2 separate regions of the Homo sapiens genome follow, and region 1 is linked to region 2. The links come from fine-mapping of genetic effects on plasma protein levels. A gene starts in region 2. The other region holds a variant in brackets. All regions are shown on one strand. Distances are between the middles of the regions.

Evidence for each region. PIP is the chance, under the fine-mapping model, that this variant and not a neighbour inherited with it causes the effect. The UK Biobank Pharma Proteomics Project read protein levels with antibody pairs (Olink). The fine-mapping took linkage between variants from a reference panel, not from the people measured, so its PIPs are less certain.
Region 1: its variant is fine-mapped to the plasma level of the SFRP1 protein (UK Biobank, PIP above 0.99).

Annotation. Positions count from the first base shown.
Region 1 is chr8:41,088,731-41,099,218 of GRCh38, forward strand. No RefSeq gene overlaps it. Among named protein-coding and RNA genes, the nearest start is that of MIR548AO, 180 kb to the right of the region's middle. The variant A/T (reference allele first, on the strand shown) is at 5,257.
Region 2 is chr8:41,308,502-41,318,741 of GRCh38, forward strand. SFRP1 (secreted frizzled related protein 1) reads right to left here and starts at 972. Exons shown (of 3, transcript NM_003012.5): 1 at 115-972. The coding sequence starts at 658. RefSeq lists enhancers at 1-692, 2,612-3,139.

The sequences.
Region 1 (10,488 bases), 220 kb before region 2:
GCGCGATCTCGACTCACTGAAACCTCCATCTCCCAGGTTCAAGCAATTCTCCTGCCTTAGCCTCTTAAGTAGCTAGAATTACAGGCACCCGCCACCACGCCCGGCTAATTTTTGTACTTTTAGTAGAGATGGGGTTTCGCCATTTTGGCCAGGCTGGTCTTGAACTCCGGACTTCAGGTGATCTGCTCACTGTGCCTGGCCAGAAAGTGGTTTATTGAGATGGAATCAACTCCTGGTGATTCCATGGAGTAAAGATTCTGTGAACATTGTTGAAATGACAACAAAGGTTTTAGAATATTCCATAAACTTAGTTGATAATGCAGCAGCGGGGTTTGAAAGAATTGAATCCAATTTTCTGGTGGTAAAATGCTATAAAACAACATCGAATGCTACAGAGAAATCTTTTGTGAAAGGAAGAGCCAATTAATGTGCTAAACTTCATTGCTGTCTTATTTTAAGAAATTGTCACAGCCACCCCAAACTTCAGCTATCACCATCCTGATCAGTCAGCAGCCATCAACATCAAGGCAAGACCCTCCACTAGCAAAAAGATTACAGCTCGCTGAAGGTTCAGATGATCACTAGCATTTCTTAGCAACAAAATATTTTTAAATTAGGATTATACGGTGTTTTTTAGACATAATGCTATTGCACACTTAATTGACTGCAATGTAATGTGAACATAAATTTTATAAGCACTAGGAAACCAAAAAAATTCATGTGACTCACTTTATTGTGTTATTCTCTTTATTATGGTGGTCTGGAACTGAACCCACAATATCCAAGGTGTGGTTGTCTATAAATAGAATACTGATTTTTTTTTTATTTTTTTTTTGAGGTAGGGTCTTGCTCTTTCACCCACGCTGGAGTACAGTGGTGTGATCTCAGCTCACTGCAAATCTCTGCCTCCCCGGCTCAAGCATCTTAAGTCTTCCCACCTCTGCCTATCTAGTAGCTGGAACTACAGGTGCATGCCACCACTCTCAGCTAATTTTTTAATGTTTTGTAGAGATGAGGTCTTGCTATGTTGCCCAAGCTGATCTTGAATCCCTGGGCTCTTGTTATCGTCTCCCACCTCAGCCTCCAAAAGTGCTGGGGTTACAGGCAGGAGCCACCACACCCAGCCTGAATTATATTTAACAGCGGCCAGGATCTGTATTGTAAAAGACACATGTATATGTGTCTTTTAATGCAATCAGTTAACTAATATATCCCTTTTATTTTATCTTTGATCTCCAGAGTGTTCCCTTGTGTGCTTTAGAACATAATAGCCTCTCAAATACTACTTAAACAATCAAGTTAATCAATTATTCAATGAGTATTTAATGAATACCCACTTAATTGTATAATCCTATCTTGACACTGTGGAGGATGCAGATAGATATGAGAAATAGCTCTCATCTGAAAGAAATTTAGAATGAAATGGAATAGACAGGGCTCTCAATAGAAAGGCAGGCAGACAAGCAGGCAGACAGGGAAAAAGTGACAGTAAATTCTTCCTGTTTAAGGATGATGAAAATCAAAATGGTGATTCCAGGAGGGAGACCACCTACCATATTCTCATCCTGGAATCTCCTACAGTGTCTAGCATTATTTACTGCATGTGGTAACTGTCTACTGTTTGTGGATTGAATCAATGAACATGATATATGCTGTGAGATTTGAATGTGAACTTTAGAGCTCACAGTCTCGTCTCCTCAGGTTACAGATAAGAGTTGCTCTAAATGGCGACTCCCCTCCCTTTCAGGCCCTCCTCCCACATCTCCATTTCTCAAGACCTGGGTCATACTTCCTCCTCTTGGCAGTCTTTGCTGACTATCTCCATGCAAAGTGACCTATGAATTCTTAGAGATCTCAAGTTCTTTCTCTTTCTTTGTTTCTTCCATTCCTTCTTCTTCTTCCTTTCTTTCTTTTGGGTTTTTAATTTTGTTGTTACACATTGTCCATAAAATTTATTTACAATTTTTTTCTGCTTCTACTATATAGAAGCTCATATAATCTTTAAGATTTGAAAAAAATTCCAGCCACGCAGAGTGACTAACCCCTGTAATCCCAGCACTTTGGGAGGCTGAGGCAGGTGGATCATGACGTCAGGAGTTCGAGACCAGCCTGGCCAACCAACTTCTCTACTAAAAATACAAAAAATTAGCCAGGCGTGGTGGCGGGTGCCTGTAATCCCAGCTACTCAAGAGGCAAAGGCAGGAGAATCGCTTGAACCTGAGAGGTGGAGGTTGCAGTGAGCCAAGATCATGCCATTGCACTCCAGCTCGGGCGACAGTGGGAGACTCCATCTCAAAAAAGAAAAAAATTTCAAGGATACATAAATACAAAAAAGATGATAAAACATAAAACCAAATGCTCACTGTCCAGATTTATCAAGTGTTCACATTTTGTCACATTTGCTTTAACTCTTTATTTAAACATATGTAATAAAACTATAAAAACTGACCTGAGAGAAAATACTCCAATCTCAGTGTAGTGATTACCCCTGTGAAGGGAGGATAAGGCAAAGCGATGGGACAGGAGTGAAGTTTGGGGATGAAGATATTAACTGCCTTTAAAACATTGACAACAGCCAGGCATGGTGGCTCACGCCTGTGATCCTAACAATTTGGGAGGTAGAGGCAGGTGGATCACTTGAAGTCAGGAGTTCGATACCAGCCTGGCCAACATGGTGAAACCCTGTCTCTACTAAAAATACAAAAATTAGCCAGGCGTGGTGGCACATGCTTGTAATCCCAGCTACTTGGGAGGCTGAGGCAGGAGAATCGCTTGAACCCAGGAGGCAGAGGTTGCAGTGAGCCAAGATCACGCCATTGAACTCCAGCCTGGGTGATAGATCAAGACTCAGTCTCAAAAAAAAAAAAACATTGAAAGCAACAGAAACACCCTGGAAACTGGTTTCTGTTCTTGCCGCCCATTCCCTCCACTCTCATTTAACCATCAGATGGCTCTTTGTCATCCAGCTGGGGCTGTCAGACTTTGAGACGCAGTGTCGTGTATTTAAGCCTTGTCTCAACAACCAACTCAACTGCAAGCATCCAGAGGGAAGGATCTGTGTCTCAGGCTTGCCTTCTGCTCACCACGGAGCAATATGGAGCATATTAGAGGCTTATTTCATTTTATTACATCGTGCAGTTCCCCTGAACAGGGTATATGTAGCTCATTTTTAACATTTTAATGAGTTTCTCTCCCAAATTATGAACTTCGCAACGTCTTCATTTATCATCTTACTCCTAGTCCTCCCAAGAATGTTGTAAAGTGTAGCCAGTCAAATTTACATATGATCTCTAGCTTGTTTCCAAGGGATTCCCATTACAATGAAGGTGAAAAATTGCCAAAGACCATTTCAAACCCATCTGCACATACTGTGCTTTAGGGATTCATTAGACACATTTTCCTTGCCTGTTTTGAAGATGAACTGTTGCAATGTCTCTGCAGTGGGGCAGATGTAATCTTCCCTGGCCTGATCCTCTGCAGATGCTTAGCTGCACGGTGGATTGAATGTCTCAAAGGTCAATAACCCTTTCTATCATTTTTCATTAAAGTGCTTGGAGCGGGCAGTTCCTGCAGGAATAATTACTCGGAATCTGGCATACAATTCTTGTACACCCCAGCAAGTTAACCTTGAGAATTCAACTCCAAAGCCAGTCTTTGACAGGTTTTTGTGAGAGTTTCACCTCACACCTTGGAACAACTGAAACGTCTTAGGAAATTCATATTTCCAAAGCCCGAGTTCCCAGGCTGGGTGCACAGAGCACAATGATCATGGTGTCTGAGCCCGGGCAGACCTACCCCATGGGAAAGGGAAGGGAAACTGGGGGAAGGGAGAAACATCATGCCTGCTTCTTGGAATTGCTTTTGCTTCAAACCTTGCCTTCCTCTAGGTTCAGGGAGAGTCAAGAAAGCTGCCGTTACTCTAAATTCCAGACTCTGATAATGTAACCCAGCTCCTAAGAACAGCCTCAGCGTGAACCGGAACCTTGAGGAGCTCACTTGCCTCGCTGACCAGCAGACGCCTTGATTTAAATCCAGTGCTGGTGGCCAGAGCTAGAGATGTCTTGAGGGACAGAGGCAGCGGCAGGGTCTGGGGAAGCAGAAATGATGCTATCCTGAGTGGTTCATGGCAGATCACGCTGGAGCGTGACGCGCTGTGAGCGCTGCAAGTGTTCTGTGGACCAATCTGTGCAACCACCGGAGGAGGCTCCGGTTCGGTTAATCTGTTCGTTAAAGTGTCTTTGATTACGAACAATTCAAACTATTCTGGTTGGGATCAACTGAAAAGAGAAGTGGGGTGACTCCAGGAAGCAAAATGCAGCTGAATAACCCAGGCCTGCGGAGGATGGGAGCCCCCCAGCACAGGGGGCTTCAGGGACCACTTCTCCAGAGCAGAGCTGTCAAACGACATAAAGCTCCAACCATGTGTGCAATATTATATTTTCTACTAGCCACATTTTAAAAGGTAAAAAGGCCGGGCGCGGTGGCTCATGCCTATAATCGCAGCACTTTGGGAGGCCGAGGCGAGCGGATCACGAGGTCGGGAGATCGAGACCATCCTGGCTAACACGGTGAAACCCCGTCTCTACTAAAAATACAAAAAAAATTAGCCAGGCGTGGTGGCGGGCGTCTGTAGTCCCAGCTACTTGGGAGGCTGAGGCAGGAGAATGGCGTGAACCCGGGAGGCAGAGCTTGCAGTGAGCCGAGATCGCGCCACTACACTCCAGCCTGGGCGACAGAGCGAAACTCAGTCTAAAAAATAAAAAAATAAAAATAAAAAGATAAAAAAAGGTAGGAGGAATTTATTTCCATAATATATTTTATTTAACTCAATATTTAAAATGTGATTATTTTAACATAGAATCAAGGAATTGTCAATGAGATATTTTGAATCTTTTTTTCATATTTAGACATTGAAATCCAGTGTGTATTTTACACACACAGCACATCTCTACGATGGAGCAGGTTTGGGACACACTGATCCATTATCCCTGTATTTTACAGATTAAGAACTGGGGCCGAGAGTGTTTATTTAACTAGCTTGCAGACATTGGCTCTCTTTGCCCTGCCATATAGCTGTAGTTTGGCAGGGCAGGGGTGCAGCTTTGGTGACTTTATTTCTCCACTCACTGAGAAGGTCTCAGCGAGTGCTCTCAACTCCCCAGGGAGGGGTTGGCCCTTCCTAAACCCGTGGAATCGGGTAACTTTGGTTATATAGGATTCATTCCCGGAATACTTCAGAATCCTGCCTAGACCACA[A/T]CGGCCCTTCTGAGCCAATCTCAGACTCCAGGCCCTGGGGGTATCTTTTCTCCGCTTCCCTTCTCTCTCTCCAGTTCCAGTGGAGTTCCAGTAAACCACGTGGTGAGAGAGGTGGGAGCTCTGATTTGTAGCGTCTGCCTGTTTTGGTGGTATAAATCCTCCCACCGTGGCCAATTTCAAGCTATCAACATGACATCAGCCTGTCTGCAAAAATCCTGAAAATTTAACAACTGGGTCTTGAGACCCAGGGCAAGCTGGACCCAGCTCATCACTGCAGCATTACCAAAACATTTCCTCCCCTGAGCCATGCCTGTTCTGTTCTTTCACTTCTATCTGTTCCCTAGAGATGCCACATGCTATGGACACTGGCTTCAGAGAAAGTCAGACAGGCCTAACTCAGGTCTGCCTCCTTCTCCCTTGTTTTTTTTTCTCTTCTCTCTTTTTTTTTTTTTTTACGTTTGAATTAATGTTAACTAACTTACAGGATGCTGGAGAGGATTAGAACAAATCCTTGTGAAGCCCACATGTAGGAGGTACTCCATGTATGCGACTATTAGCCTTTTTTTTTTTTTTTTTTTTTTTTTGAGACAGAGTCTGTCTCTGTTGCCCAGGCTGGAATGCAGTGGTGCCATCTTGGCTCACTGCAACCTCCACCTCCCAGGTTCAAGCGATTCTCCTGCCTCAGCCTCCCAAGTAGCTGGGACTACAGGCACGGGCCACCACACCCAGCAAATTTTCATATTTTTAGTAGAGACGGAGTTTTGTCATGTTGACCAGGATAGTCTCAATCTCTTGACCTTGTGATCCACCCGCCTTGGCCTCCCAAAGTACTGGGGTTACAGACGTGAGCCACCGCGCCCGGCCAGCATTTTTATTTTTCAATTTTTTTTTCCTTTTGAGACAAGGTCTTTCTCTGTCATTCAGGCTGGAGTGCAGATGCACAATCACAGCTTACTGCAGCCTCAACCTCCCAGACTCAAGCGATCACCCCCCTGAGCCCTCGGAGAAGCTAGGACTACAGGCATGAGTCACCACGCCCAGCTAATATCCTTACATTTTTTTCTAGAGCTGGGGCTCTCATCATGTTGTCCAGGCGGGTCTCAAACTCCTGGGCTCAAGCAGTCCTCCCACTTTAGCCTCCCAAAGTGTTGGGATTACAGATGTGAGCCACTGCACCTGGCCTCCTTTTCTAATTTTTAACATACAAACTCACACAGCCAGCCAGAACTAAAGCCAGTATTAGAACCCAGAAAAGCCCCTTCAAGGATTCCAAACTAAATTGCCAAAACTGACTGGTTCAAGATGGTGTGAACAGGTAAGACATTTCTTCTGACCTTTGCATGTATCCTTTGGAGCAAGTCAGGGGAGAATCACAGGGAGCAGAGGTGAAATCATCATCAGGAATTGTGATGATGCAGAAATGGAAAATCATACTAGGACCTGTGTTTGTTTCCTAAGACTGCCACAATGATGTACCACAGGCTGGATGGCTTACAACAGCAGAAATTTATTCTCTCATAGTTCTGGAGGCTAGAAGTCCAAAATCAAGGTGTTGGCAGGACCACGTTCTCTCCAAAATCTCTTCCTTGCCTTTCCCAGCTTCTGATAGCCCCTGGCATTCCTTGGCTTGCAGCAGCATAAGCCCACCTCTGCTTCTGTCTGCTGCGGGCAGGAGAGCAGTTTTCTCTGTGTGTCTCTTTCACCCACTTCTTATAAGGACACCAGTCTTATTGGATCAGGGCCACCCTAATGACTTCATCTTAACATGATGACATCTGCAAATACCCTGTTTCCACATAAGGTCCCATTCACATGTACCATGGTTAGAACTTCAACATACCTTTCAGAGGACACACTTCAACCCATAACAGATCCTTTGTAAGACCTTAATATTACAACATAAAATCTCTAGATGTTATTCTGGGTGTTCCAGCCTCCTTTCCCCAACCAAAAGGAAAGCTTTTTTGTTTGTTTGTTGTTTGCTTGTTTGCTTTTGAGATGGAGTCTTGCTCCGTCGCCCAGGCTGGAGTGCAGTGGTGCAATCTCGGCTCACTGCAACCTCTGCCTCCCAGGTTCAAGTGATTCTCCTGCTTCAGCCCCGAGTAGCTGGGATTACAGGTGCCCACCACACACCCAGTTAATTTTTGTATTTTTAGTAGAGACGGGGTTTCGCCATGTTGGCCAGGCTGGTCTCGAACTCCTGATCTCAGGTGATCCACCCTCCTCAGCCTCCCAAAGTGCTGGGATTACAGACGTGAGCCATTGCACGTGGCCTACAACATAAGATCTCTAGATGTTATTCTGGGCCTTCCAGCCTCCTTTCCCCAACGAAAAGGAAAGGTTTTTTTGTTGTTGTTGTTTTTGTTTTTGTTTTTGTTTTTGTTTTTAATGAGAGGCAGAGTCTCATTCTATCACACAAGCTCAAGGCTGGAGTAAAGTGGTGTGATCACAACTTACTGCAGCCTCAAACTCCTGGGCTCAAGCAATCCTCCTGCCTCATCCTCCAGAGTAACTGGAACTACAGGTGTGGAGCACCATACTCAGTTAACTTTTATTACTTTTATTTTTGTAGAGATGAAGTCTCACTGTATTGCCCAGGCTGGTCTCAAACTCCTGGCTTTAAGCAATTCTCCTGCCTCAGCCTCCCAACATGCTGGGATTACAGTTGTGAGCCACTTCTCAGGGCCTAGAAACACATTTTTTAATAATCCTAAATTAAACCAATGTATCTTAAATCTTTGTTGAAACATTAGAGAATCTGGGTCCCTTCTCTAGCTCCTGTTGACCAAACTCCCTCTGGCAAAAAGTACTCAGCAAATCTGTTTCTCAACAAGAGGAATGTGAGCCCACAGATACTAAGAGGTCCCCCATAGTCACACAGCACTGAGTTGGGAAGCTGAGATGTGTGGAAAATAGTTTTATTAGGTTGGTGCAAAAGTAATTGCCATTACTTTTAATGACAAAAAACTGCAATTACTTTTGCACCAACGTGACAGCTTTCTTGCAAATCCCTTCCATCCCTCCTCCATCTCAGCTCTCTTAAAATATGTTCGCAGTTCGCTCATTCATTCATTCAACAAGTAGGGATTCAGTGCCTACCACTAAGGGGCAATATTGCGTAGTATTTAAGTCATACCTGTATTTGCATTCTGGCTCTAACTTACTGCTGTGTGACTTTGGGCAAGTTGCTTCTCCTCTCTGTGCTGTCTGTAAAAAGAGAATAATAACAATACCCATGTCACTGAGTTGGTGGGAGGGTTATAGGACATGGAGCACATAAGGCACTTGCCACAGAGCCTGGTTAAGCACTGACATGTCACTCTTCAATATTTGCTGGTTACTAAGTGCCTGGCCCTGAATCGAACCCTGGAGATACCATGACAAGAAAACAGACAAGGCCTGGCTCAAGGGGTTACATACAGTCCAGAGGAGACCACTGGTCTCCAAATGGACACAGCAATTTCAGATTTAAAACACTGTATTTTGCAAAATCTTATTTCTACAGCTATTACCTTTGGCCCATCTGAGTTTCTAATTTTGTGGCCAGCCAGATAGGTTAAGAGAACATCATCTGAGTCAGTCAAAATTTTCCAATCCAATCCAATCCAGTCCAGTCCAATCCAGTCCAATGCTTTGATGCCATTATCTACACATAGGGGCTTTATATGTAGGATGGAAGTGGAGAAAGGGGTAAGAGATAAGGCACTCATTTAGTCCTCCCATAGGGCTTTCCAGTATGGCTGCTGTTGAAATAAAGAAGAAAGAAGAGACGAAGGGGTTGAAACCATTGAAGTTTCACCAATATAAGCCTGAAAGCAATTTTGATCCATTCCACACATTCTCTAGTAACATTAAAAGAAAAATGTACAATCCTATCAGGGCTCAGTCCAGTGAGAAACATCCCAGTGAGTTTTATCAGCAATCGTTCTGGGAAGTGGGAGACAGGGGGTACCGGGACATCGGTCAGTGTGACCCACGCCAGGAGGGCTGTGTTCCTTGGCGGGGGTGGGAGGCCTACCAGAGTCAAGAGACAGGCCTTTGGCTCTTATAAGAAACTCCTTTTGTTGCATGTGTGTACTGAACCCATTTATACAATATCTTCTATCTGCAATGAATCTATGAGCCAGTTCTGATTTCACATATCCAAGCATGAAATTAAGAACTATTTATATTTTGTATTTTTGACTTACATTTTTACTTTTTTTCAAGAAGACACATTATAGCTGTCAGACGTATGTGAATCAGAGCAACTCCATCTTGAATAGGAGCTGGGTAAATTGAGGCTGAGACCTACTGGGCTGCATTCCCAGACAGTTAAGGCATTCTAAGTCACAGGATGAGACAGGAGGTTGGCACAAGATACAGGTTGTAAAGACCTTGCTGATGAAGCAGGCTGCAATAAAGAAGCCAGCCAAAACCCACCAAAACCAAGATGGCCACGAGAGTGACCTCTAACTGTCCTCACTGCTACACTCCCACCAGCGCCATGACAGTGTACAAATGCCATGGCAATGTCAGGAAGTTACCCTATGTGGTCCAAAAGGGGAAGGCATAAATAATCCACTCCTCGTTTAGTATATAATCAAGAAATAACCATAAAAATGGGCAACCAGCAGCTCTCCAGGCTGTCTGTCTATGGAGTAGCCATTCTTTATTCCTTTACTTTCCTAATAAATTTGTTTTCACTTTACTCTATGGACTTGCCCTGAATTCTTTCTTATGTGAAATCCAAGAAGCCTCTCTTGGGGTCTGGATCGGGGCCCCTTTTCTGTAATATAGCTATCTTTCAATTATATATCTTGGTGGGACTTTTCATATAAGTTATTCCATTAATCAGGAAAAACATCGTTTTTCAGGTCATGTATGTTGATGTCTATCAGTGGATTACAGTCACTGCTAGAAATCTGTCATCTGCTAGAGAGCAAAAACAGAATCAGTGAGAAGGGATCTTACAGAAGGGTGTGTGTGTGAGAGAGAGAGAGACAGAGAGAGAGAGACAGTACGTGTGTGTGTGTGTTAGAGAGAGACACAGAGAGAGTGCATGTGTGTGTGTGAGAGAGAGAGAGACAGAGAGAGAGAGAGAGAGAGAGTGTGTGTGTGTGTGTGTGTGTGTGTGAGACACAGAGAGAGAGAGAGGGCATCTCCCCTCCCCATTCTGATATCCCACTGTGTTTGGGAACCACTGAGCCAGTCCAAGCCCTTCATTTGACAGATGAGACACTGGTGACTTGG
Region 2 (10,240 bases):
GTCCCCAGCACCGGGACCCAGCGGCGGGCGGGCGTAGGGTGGCGCGGGTTCTCCTGCAGCTCCGGCCGGGGGATGGAGGGGGCGGCTCGCGCACGTGGGAGGAGGCAGCCTTACCTTGGGGCTTGGAGGCTTCGGTGGCATTGGGCGGCGTCATGGCGATGCAGACGTCCCCCTCGGGGAACTTGTCACACTTAAGCATCTCGGGCCAGTAGAAGCCGAAGAACTGCATGACCGGCTCGCACGAGTCGCGCACGGCCTCGCAGAGCCAGCGACACGGGTAGATGGGCCGGTCCAGGCAGACGGGCGCGAAGAGCGAGCAGAGGAAGACCTGGGTGCCGGCGTGGCAGTTCTTGTTGAGCAGGGGCACCCAGCTGCTGGCCTGCTGCTTCACCTCCGCCATGGTCTCGTGCTCCAGCAGGTTGGGCAGCACCATCTTCTTGTAGCCCACGTTGTGGCACAGCCGCAGGTCCGCGGGGATGTCCACGCACTGAGGTGGCTTGGTGTAGAAGCGCCCGCTCTGGTACGGGCCGATGTCCGACTGGAAGCTCACGTAGTCGTACTCGCTGGCCGAGCCCACGGCCAGAAGCGCCGCGCCCAGCGCCAGCAGCACGCCCAGGGCTGCCCCGCGGCGGCCCCCCTCGCTGCGCCCGATGCCCATGCCGGCTCTGCGCCCTGTTCTCCGCGACGTCGGGGCTGCCTCCGCCGCCTCCCCGCGCGCGTCCTGCCGCAAACTTCCAGGGACCTCCGGGGACAAAAGGCGCAGTCCCCAGCGTTGCCCGGCTCCGCGGCCGCAAGCTGCTGCCCGGTCCCCCCGGCCAGTGGCGGCCCTCGGCCTGCGGTCGGAGGCGGCGCGGGCGGGGAGGCGGCGCTGCGGGCTGGGTGCGCCCCGGCTCCCGGAGGTGCGGCGAGCAGGAAGGCGCGGGGCGGCGGGCGCGCGGCACTGACTCCGGAGGCTGCAGGGCTGGAGTGCGCGGGGCTCCTACGGCCGAGCCCTCGGAGCCGCCCCGCGCAGCCAATCAGCTCCCGGCGGGGCGAGCCGCACTCGTTACCACGTCCGTCACCGGCGCGGGAGCCAATCGCCTCCCTCGCGAGCGGGTTCGGTTTACTAGAACCAGACGCGGCTCAACACCCCTTAAAAAACAAAACCAAAAATACATAAATAAAAGGGGGAGGAGGAAAGAGACAAGGGGAGAAAAAGAAGGGGAATGGATCACGGCGTGGGGTGGAGAGAGACCAGGGCGGACGCTGTAATTAACTCGCATTGGCTTGCAGAGAAGCGGGGAGCCTGGATCATACTTGCAAACCCATGAAATTATGAAGACTTTTTTTTTTTGAGACAGTTTCGCTCTTGTTGCCTAAGCTGGAGTGCAATGGCGCTATCTCCGCTGACTGCAACCTCCGCCTCCCGGGTTCAAGCGATTCTCCTGCCTCAGCCTCCCGAGTAGCTGGGATTACAGCCGCGTGCCACCATGCCCCCGCTAATTTTTTGTATTTTTAGTAGAGACGGGGTTTCACCATGTTAGCCAGGCTGGTCTCGAACTCCTGACCTCAGGTGATGCTCCTGCCTTGGCCTCCCAAACTTTTTTTTTCTTTTTCTTTACACTGCTTCCTAATTTCAACCAACAGCCCTTTAGACTAGCGGCTCCTCTCCTCGGTTCTCTAGCTGCGGTGCAGACAGGTGGTTTCCCAACTAACAGGGGTTCAGGAAGGCTGAAGCGAGGGAGGTCTGCTTGTAAATACCCAGTGGGCCTGGCTGGGCTCCCTGGAAGGCGAGGCGAAGGCGCAGTTGGAGCTGTTTGCTGTGAGCAGCACCTCTCCAGGTGGGGCCGCCCATGGTGGCCCTCAACACTGGGGCAGTGGGTGGACTTTGCCCGGTGTGGCGGCAGGAAGAGCTGCTAGCAACGGTATTAGCTCTGGGAGGACACTTTTTTAAATATATAATATATATTTAAATAGAAAAACCCTACTCAAGTCCTAGCCCGGGCGACAGCACATCTGTGTGTTTGTGGTGTGGAAAGCCAAAACATTAAAAACACATGTGCACTTATCAGCGTGGCTGGTGTAAATACCAAGTCCATCACTCAGGCACACATGCTAAGGTTAGACCCAGTCCAGGAACTTCAAGTTAAAATCAAGGGTCCCCACTAGGGCAGACGCCAAGAGGACGGTATCAGCACAACAGCTCGGCCCCCAGGAACAGAAGTCTCTCTGCCACCTTCTACCTCGAATTCCTGAGAATTCTTCGTAGGTTTCAAACATTCCCCTGAGAGGGAGGGTTAAGCTCTGGAGAGCTGGGAGTGAGACCCGGACTATCCCGGGACAGAAGACCACAGCAAATAGTTCATGAAGTTCCTGGAGTCTCCATATCTTCTGTCCCTAAGTGCGGGTGGAGAGAGGCTGATATATTCATAGCCCAGTCTGAGCGCACACCCCATGTGGCAAAGGGGTCACAGATCTTAGCGCTCCACAGAGACACTATAGGGCGCGCTGCCTTGCCCGCCAGCTTGTTTGTAAAGCTCTAGGGAGCTTGCTTTGGACTCTGCAAACCTAATTTCTTGATGGACAGATTCCAAGTGAAATGACTAGAGTTTGTGAAGAAGCAGGGCTGTTTTCTTAAAGCATTCGTGCCCGTACAGACACGGTGATTCCACGGTGCACACAGGAGGCTTCTGCAGATGGATGACTTCTCTGTCATTTCGTGGCCAATGGAAGATGCCTTGACACTCAAAAGGTGACATGGAGGCTGGAAGGAAAACACAGAGAAGAGAGAGCAAGATCGGGATGGCCAAGGGTTAATCCCAAGACAATTGGTGAGGCCGGCCTGTGGAGCTGAGGAAGACATTCCTCACAGAGAATAAGACCGCAGGAGACCCGGCAACTGTGTCTCAATTCAAGGGGCATTTAGAGAAAAATGCTGTTTGGTAGGGGGTCTTTTTGTCTCCTAGGGCCAGGCCCTCCACCTCAAGCCAAATGCGTCTGTTTGCTCACTGCAAAGATGGATGTTTGCAGATAACATCCTCTCACCTCTGAACCCAGGCTTAGCTGACCGCTCACTCACGTTTTCAGTTTTCCCGAATGGCAGGAGGACTTGTGTCTGTCCACGGTTAAATGCTGGAAATTCGTCCAGGTGACTGCCCTGGAAGTCCCAAGTCAGGAGTAAATCTCACAAATCCATTCAGGGGAAGACCTCGCCTATGTCTGGTCACTCCGAGTAGACTTTGATCACCTCCAGTCACCACCTCCCCCACTCACCCCTAGTGGTCCTACTGCTTTACTGACCCCTGCTGGGAACACAGTTGTCTCTCCGTGGAACAGGGAGTGATGGGAGAAGACCCCAAATCCTAAATCCAGTGCACTCCTGACTCCTCCCAGACCCAGCTGGAAAGGAAGGACCCTAAGACCTCAGTCCCACCGAGAGACTTTAATCCATTCCTGGGATGTGGGAGAGGGACCACCCGCCCCCCGTCCTCTCGGGAAATTCACATGCTGCATAACAGCACCAGGCAGAACAGCCTGAAGACTTTGTATTGCAGAGGTACATACAGTACTTTTGTCCTTTTACTTATTGTCAACTCTTTGCACTTCAAAATCCAGTCCCCCTTTTCCTAATGGCAAGTGTGTGTGTGTTTGTGTGTGCACGCACTCCTGTGTGTACAGCAGAAGGTTCTAGAACAAAGGCCCTTTAAACATGCAACTGACATGACAGAGCTCCCAGATATGAGGGTTCCTGAGTATGAGAACTGTGGGCCAGGAGACATATCCTCCCTCCTTTTTGAATGGCTTAAATAAACAGAGGCAAAATGCAGCTTTAACTTATGTTTCTCATTTCCCAGAAGTTCTGCTTTTCCCACACTGCTAGATGCCCATGCATGAAGCCTGAAAGTTCGTCCTCTGTTGCTTCAAAACACCAGCTTCAGGAGGCATTCTCAGTTCTTCAGCCTCCACAGAGGGTCACAGAGGGCCCCCCCAGGTGCCTCCCAGGTGGCCTCTTCCCACACGCAGAGCTTTTTCCTGGCTTCTCCTGGAAAAACTGGGAGGGGAGCCTTCCCAGCCACAGCTCCCATTGTGTTCCACTATCATATCATCAGTGATGTCTGCCATCCTCTCCAAAGATACATTCAGCTCGCTCTCCCTCAGCCAGCAGCACTAGGGAGGGAGCTCCCGCCTGAAGCTGGGTATCTGTGGGTCAGGGGCAATGCCAAGGAAAGCATGCTGGCCCACAGTCAGTGGACACAGGCTACAGCCTCAGCTCTGCTCCTAACTGGCTGGGCGACTCATGGGAATCGCACTTCCTCTCTCTGGTCTTAGTGTTCTCATCTGTGAAACAGAGCTATTAATGCCTGCCCGGCTGCCCTGCTAGCTCAGAAGTGTGAATTCTCAGCATGTAGGGTCACTCGAGGCACATCCTTAGACTTCCAGGCAAGTCTGAAGGGGCCAAAGTGGTATTCGTTGTCAGATGCCTTGAAACCTGGTCATGCTCTTACTTGGACAAGCTTCTTCTGCATTCTGCCTCTGTAGATGTGTAATCCTGATCCTTTCTAACTCTTTAAAGAACTGGCCTGACCTGCTAACTGAAGTCTGGGAATGTCTGGGAAGCATCTTAAAAATTTGGAGTTGAAGGCAAATTCCAGCCCCATCTCTTCATCTCTTCTTAGAGTAAGCACCCCTACCTCTTCATCTTTTTTTTTTTTTTTTTTTTGATACAGAGTCTCACTCTGTTCCCCAGGCTGGAGCGCAGTGGCAGGACCTTGGCTCACTGCAGCCTTGACCTCCTGGGCTCAGGCAATCCTGCCACCTCAGCCTCCCAAGTAGCTGGGACTCCAGATGCAGGCCACCACACCTAGCTTTTTTTTTTTTTTTTTTTTTTTTTTTTTTTTGAGCAATGGGATTTTGCTATGTTATCCAGGCTGGTTTTGAACTCCTAGCCCCAAGCAATCCTCCTGTCTCAGCCTCCCAGAGTGTTGGGATTACAGGGGTGAGCCACCGCACCCAGTCCTCTGCACCATTCTTGACAGAAGCTAACGGAGCATCCCTTTTATTTGTTTGGGATATAGTCACCAAGTTCAGACAATCCACTAGAATGTTCTTCCTTCCTTGAAGGGAAACTCTGCTCCCTGTAATTTCTTACTAGGCCATCCTAGGATCAGTTCCTATCGTAAGCAGCCAGGAAGACACCCTCAGCGGAGCCCCAAACTGGGAGGCCAAGGTCACCGTCCCCGCCCCTCCACTCAGACAGTCACACCTGCCCACTCTCCAGGCGAGGTTCTGTCAAACTGGGCTTGACAATTTTTGTTCATTTATTACTACATTAATTAATTTATAATTTATATTATAAATATATTCATGCCTATAAATATAATTTTTATATAAATAAATGAAGACTTGTATACCACCTCTTAGAAAGAAGAGAACTAAAAATAAAAGGCATATTTTAAGATGACTTTTTAAATAGAAATAAAAATATCAAATGGACTATTTCTCTGATTAAAATTCTCACACACTCTTTGTCCACAGGAAAAAGCCCAACCTCCAGGATAGTATCAAGACTCAGCCCTGACCCCCATGACCTCTCCAGCTTCACCTCCCCAGCACCCCCCACCAGCCTAGTTTCCAGTCTCCAGAAGTACTTGCACTTTCCCACCCAATGGCTTCTCGCTTGCCTCTCATCCTGGGCTCATGCTGTGTGCACATGCTGTTTTCTCTATCTGTAATGCCTTTCACTACTTTTGTACAAACTACTACTCATAGGGTTTCCAGATTTACAAATAAAAATACAGGACACCCATGGCCAGGCACAGTGGCTCATACCTGTAATCCCAGCACTTAGGGAAAGTAAGGCAGGAGGATTGCTTGAGGCCAGGAGTTTGAGACCAGCCCGGGCAACATAGCAAGACCCTGTTTCTACACATAATAATAATTTTTAAGAATTATCTGATTAGGCACAATTTTAAGAATTTTAAGAATTAGCTGATTAAGAATTAGCTACAGGCACAGTGGTACGTGCCGGTAGTCCCAGCTACTTAGGAGGCTGAGGCAGGAGGATCGCTTGAGCCCAGGAGTTGGAGGCTGCAGTGAGCTATGATCATACCACTGCACTCCAGCTTGGGTGACAGAATGGCACCCTGTCTTTAAAAATAAAAATTAAATTTAAATATTAAAAAATAGAACATCCAGTAAAATTTGAATTCCAGATCAACAAGAAAAAACTTATTAAGTGTGTCTCAAATATTACCTGAGACATACATATACTATAAATTATTCATTGTTGAACTGAAATTCAGTTTACTGGGCATCATATATTTTATCTGGCAAATCCACCCACTTATCCTAACAATGTTGTCTCCTCCAGGAAGCCAGGCCTGACCTCCTCCATCCCTAGTCAGATTCACCCACTCTGTGCCTGCAGACACTCCGTGTACATTTATAACTGGTCCCTTCCATGTACATCGTACAGTGCAGTGAGCTCTTAGAGGCCAGGACCTTGTCTTATTTTGTCTTACCCATTCCACATCTCCAGCATCTAGTACAATGCCATGCATATACTGAGTGCTCAATAATTACGCCCACCCCAACAAACAAATAAAGGGGAGACAGACATGTGAAATACCCAGGTTCTTAGGGGTGCTACCCTTGCACATTGATTTTGTGCGATGTTTTCTGAGAACAAAGGTAATACGCCAGCATGAATAGCTCCCATCGTTCTCTTTGTCTTTGAAAAAGGAAAATCTTTTCTAGATCTGAATCCTAAGGGAACTGATCATCAGTGCCTTATACAAGGACAGCAAACATAGTGTGGGACTTCTTTATTGGATCTCTTCCCATCCCAGAGCTGACCCTGTGGACAGATGCCACATCCGATTCACTCCTCTCTCCCCAGGGCTTGCACCGAGCAGGTGGCTCCATGGAGGGTGGGTTGGTCAATGCAGTGGCCCATTCCCACAAATCCTCACACAATGCTGTATAAAAACAGGAGCTGGCATCTGGGAGGCTAGAGTTTCTGGGAGCCTTGTATGCCAAGTGGGGGTGGGGACTGGGGAGCAAGAGAAGGTAGAAGGGGGCTCCACAGTGTGACACCTGGAGTCGGATCCTGGCGACGGGGCTCAAGGCTTGGCTGGGACATCACAGAGCACCAGACACAGGTCTTTAGGAAGCCCCTGCCCCTCTGGGAATCCCAGGCAAGTGAAAGTGAAGTGGCACATGCTTCAGTGACCTGAAGCCCATAAATCTGCCGGGATGGCTGCGGGGAGGGCAGCGGCCCAGCGCCGGGACACATTCCCCGAGGAGCCATGTGCTTATTTACCTAACCCTTCAAGGCAGTGGAGCCAGACGGTGCATAGCCTTCATTGGGGGATTGAGCCTGGAGCAAGCCGGATATAAATGAGGTGCTAGCGAGAGGAACGGGGGAGTGCCCATCATCACACTCCTGCCTGGCAGGAAAGCCTTCCCTGCTCCCAAGAACTGGTAACCTCAGCTGGGGAAGCCTCGCCTCCAAGTCTCCATCCAGGCAAGCCTCCTCCCCACAGTCTCTCTCAGCCTGAATAACACATCTGCCATCTGCCATTTAAGGGGCATTACTCACCTGGGCGAAGGCAGAATCCCCTGTCGCATAGGAAGATGCCTTGCTGCAGTCTTTTCCGATTTGCTCTCTGCATGCATTATGGCATTTGGGCCTCACCAAAAGCTTCTGAGCTGGCTGAGAAGTTCATTACTTTCATTTGACAGAAGAAGATACAGAAGCTCAGGGTAGTGGGACCCTGACTAGCAGTCCAGCCACCAAAGCACTGTGGTGGAGGCCAGTCGCAGGTCAGGAAGCACAGATCTTTGGACTCCAAATCCTGCTGGCTTTGCAGTAGACCTGGCTTTGCTGAAGGCCAGTCCCTGGGGAGAGAAACCTGGAGAGCCCTTGCAGCCAGCAACATCTGATTGTCCATTCATTTACCAGGCTCTCTTCCTGGACCTCCACCAGAGACTGTACAAGGTGCACAAAAACGTGAGCCACGCATGTCAGACCCGTGACCGCTACAAGAAGATGGCCTGAGACGTGGCCCAGGAATTGAAGAAAGACACTTTCAGTTTTCAGAGAGAGAGAGATCCTTTTCTATGAGAAAATGTCCCAGGAAGGCTGGATGGCCACTGAGCCCACTGAGAGAGCGCTGCAGGTGCTCCAGAAAGAAAATGGCCACAACAGGCAGAAGCTGGCTGACTCCAAGGCCGTTTCAGGCTTTCCTGAGTGGCACTTTGGCCCCTAGGGCTCCACCCACAGCCCACAGGGGCCTGGAAGTGCCAGGGGGACTGTGAGCCTTCAGGGCTCCCAGGAGGGAGGCGGGTCACAATGCCAGGGTTTGGGTCCAGAGCACCTGCCAGTTTGATTCTGTTTTCCCATAACCAAGTCCTGAATGCCCAGAGACTCGGCACAACGTCAGCCGGTGCTCCTCCCTTTAAAGCACTTTTGATGGATCCCCTGTTAGTTTAGCTACTGTTCATTAGTTCCTGCTGAAATTGCTGTCATTGATGTTTGATAGATAGCATTAGGACTGTAAGGTACTATTTTCCAAATAAAGATTGTTTAATATAAAATATATATGTATTTTATATTATATATATTTTATAACATAATATATATGTGTATATAGAAAGCCCAATATGGCATGGCACCAACCAATCAGATTGCATGCAGACAAAAAAAACCTCCTTTGCAGCCTGACAGGTGCATGCCAGTGGGGTCCCAGTGTGGGGGAATTCATAGCCTCCAGCCTCTGTGCAGAGCTCACGCTGCCCCCACAAGCTGGGCCGTCTTCCCAGCACACATCTCAGGTTTGGCTAATGGGCTTCATCTGCCTGGTCTCTCCCCAGTCTCCCTGTACATCATGGCTGTCAGAGCACCACTCTTCTTGTTTTGCATGTTTGCATGTCCGGAGTTCTAGAAGCTTCTTGAAGACAGAATCTGTATCTTTTTTGTATTTGTATCTCTAGTGCCTGCCACATGGTAGGTGTGCAGTAGTCATGTGATTGCTGAGCAAATCACCGTCTCAAGACTCATCTTTTTCATTTGATTGTCTCAATACTCTGTACTTAGGGCACCTGAGGAACCACTCTGTGACTTGTCTCCTCTTCTGAAAAGTAGGGGTTCTGCCAGGCGCAGTGGCTCACACCTGTAATCCCAGCACTTTGGGAGGCTGAGGCAGGTGGATCACCCAAGGTCAGGAGTTCAAGACCAGCCTGGGCAACATGGCAAAACCCCGTCTCTACTAAAAATACAAAAATTATCCAGGTGTGGTGGCAGGTGCCTGTAATTCCGGCTACTCGGGAGGCTGAGGCAGGAGAATCACTTGAACCTGGGAGACAGAGGTTGCAATGAGCCGAGATCGCACCACTGCACTCCAGCCTGGGCAACAGAGCAAGACTCCTTCTAAAACAAAAATTAAATAAATAAAAATAAATGGAAAAAGTGGGGGTTCATAGGACCCTTCCAGTAGGAGGCTAAACAGAGGGATGCAGAGCAATGTGGGTGCATGGATGAGACAAACTGGGGCCTCCTGGAGAAAGGGTGTCCTGCAACCTAGGAACTGGAACAGGAGGAAGGTGTCAAACTTCCCGGTATGTGGAAGAGTTGCTCAAGATGGGTTTCCTCAGTCTTAAATAGGCATTGGATTCACCTAGGAATCTTGTTAAAATGCAAATTATGATTGAGTAGGTCCGAGGGGGGCTACTAAAAATTAGAACCTCCATGACAGATGATTCTAATTTTTACTGTCTCCTACAACTTTGCTCCTCCAAGTGTGGTCCGCAGACCAGCAGCACCAGCATCTTCTGGGAACTTGTTAGAAATGCAAATCTCAAGCCAGCTCTGGCCAGTGAGAAGGAGGTAGAAGTTGGTAAGTGTGGCACCCTGGAGCACATCATAAGAAAGATAGCCTTAGAGATTTTGCCTCTTCCCTCTGCTTCCCACCTGGAATTTAGCTGTGATGCCTGAGGTACAGCAGCTCTCTGGCAACCATGAGGATGAATGCCAGCAGACCAGTATGGTGGAGCAGAAGGAAAGAACCTGGGTCTCAAGGAGTCCCTGCACCAGCCCTGCACTGCCCACCTGGGGATTCTCACTGGGGAGACCTATAATCTGTCTCCCTCACTTGCTTAAATCCAAAGTCATTTTGATTTTCTCTTTCATGCAGCTAAAACCAAACCTCACTGGCACAGGTATGTAATTCTCACAATAGGCAGGAAGCTCAAAGACTGCAGG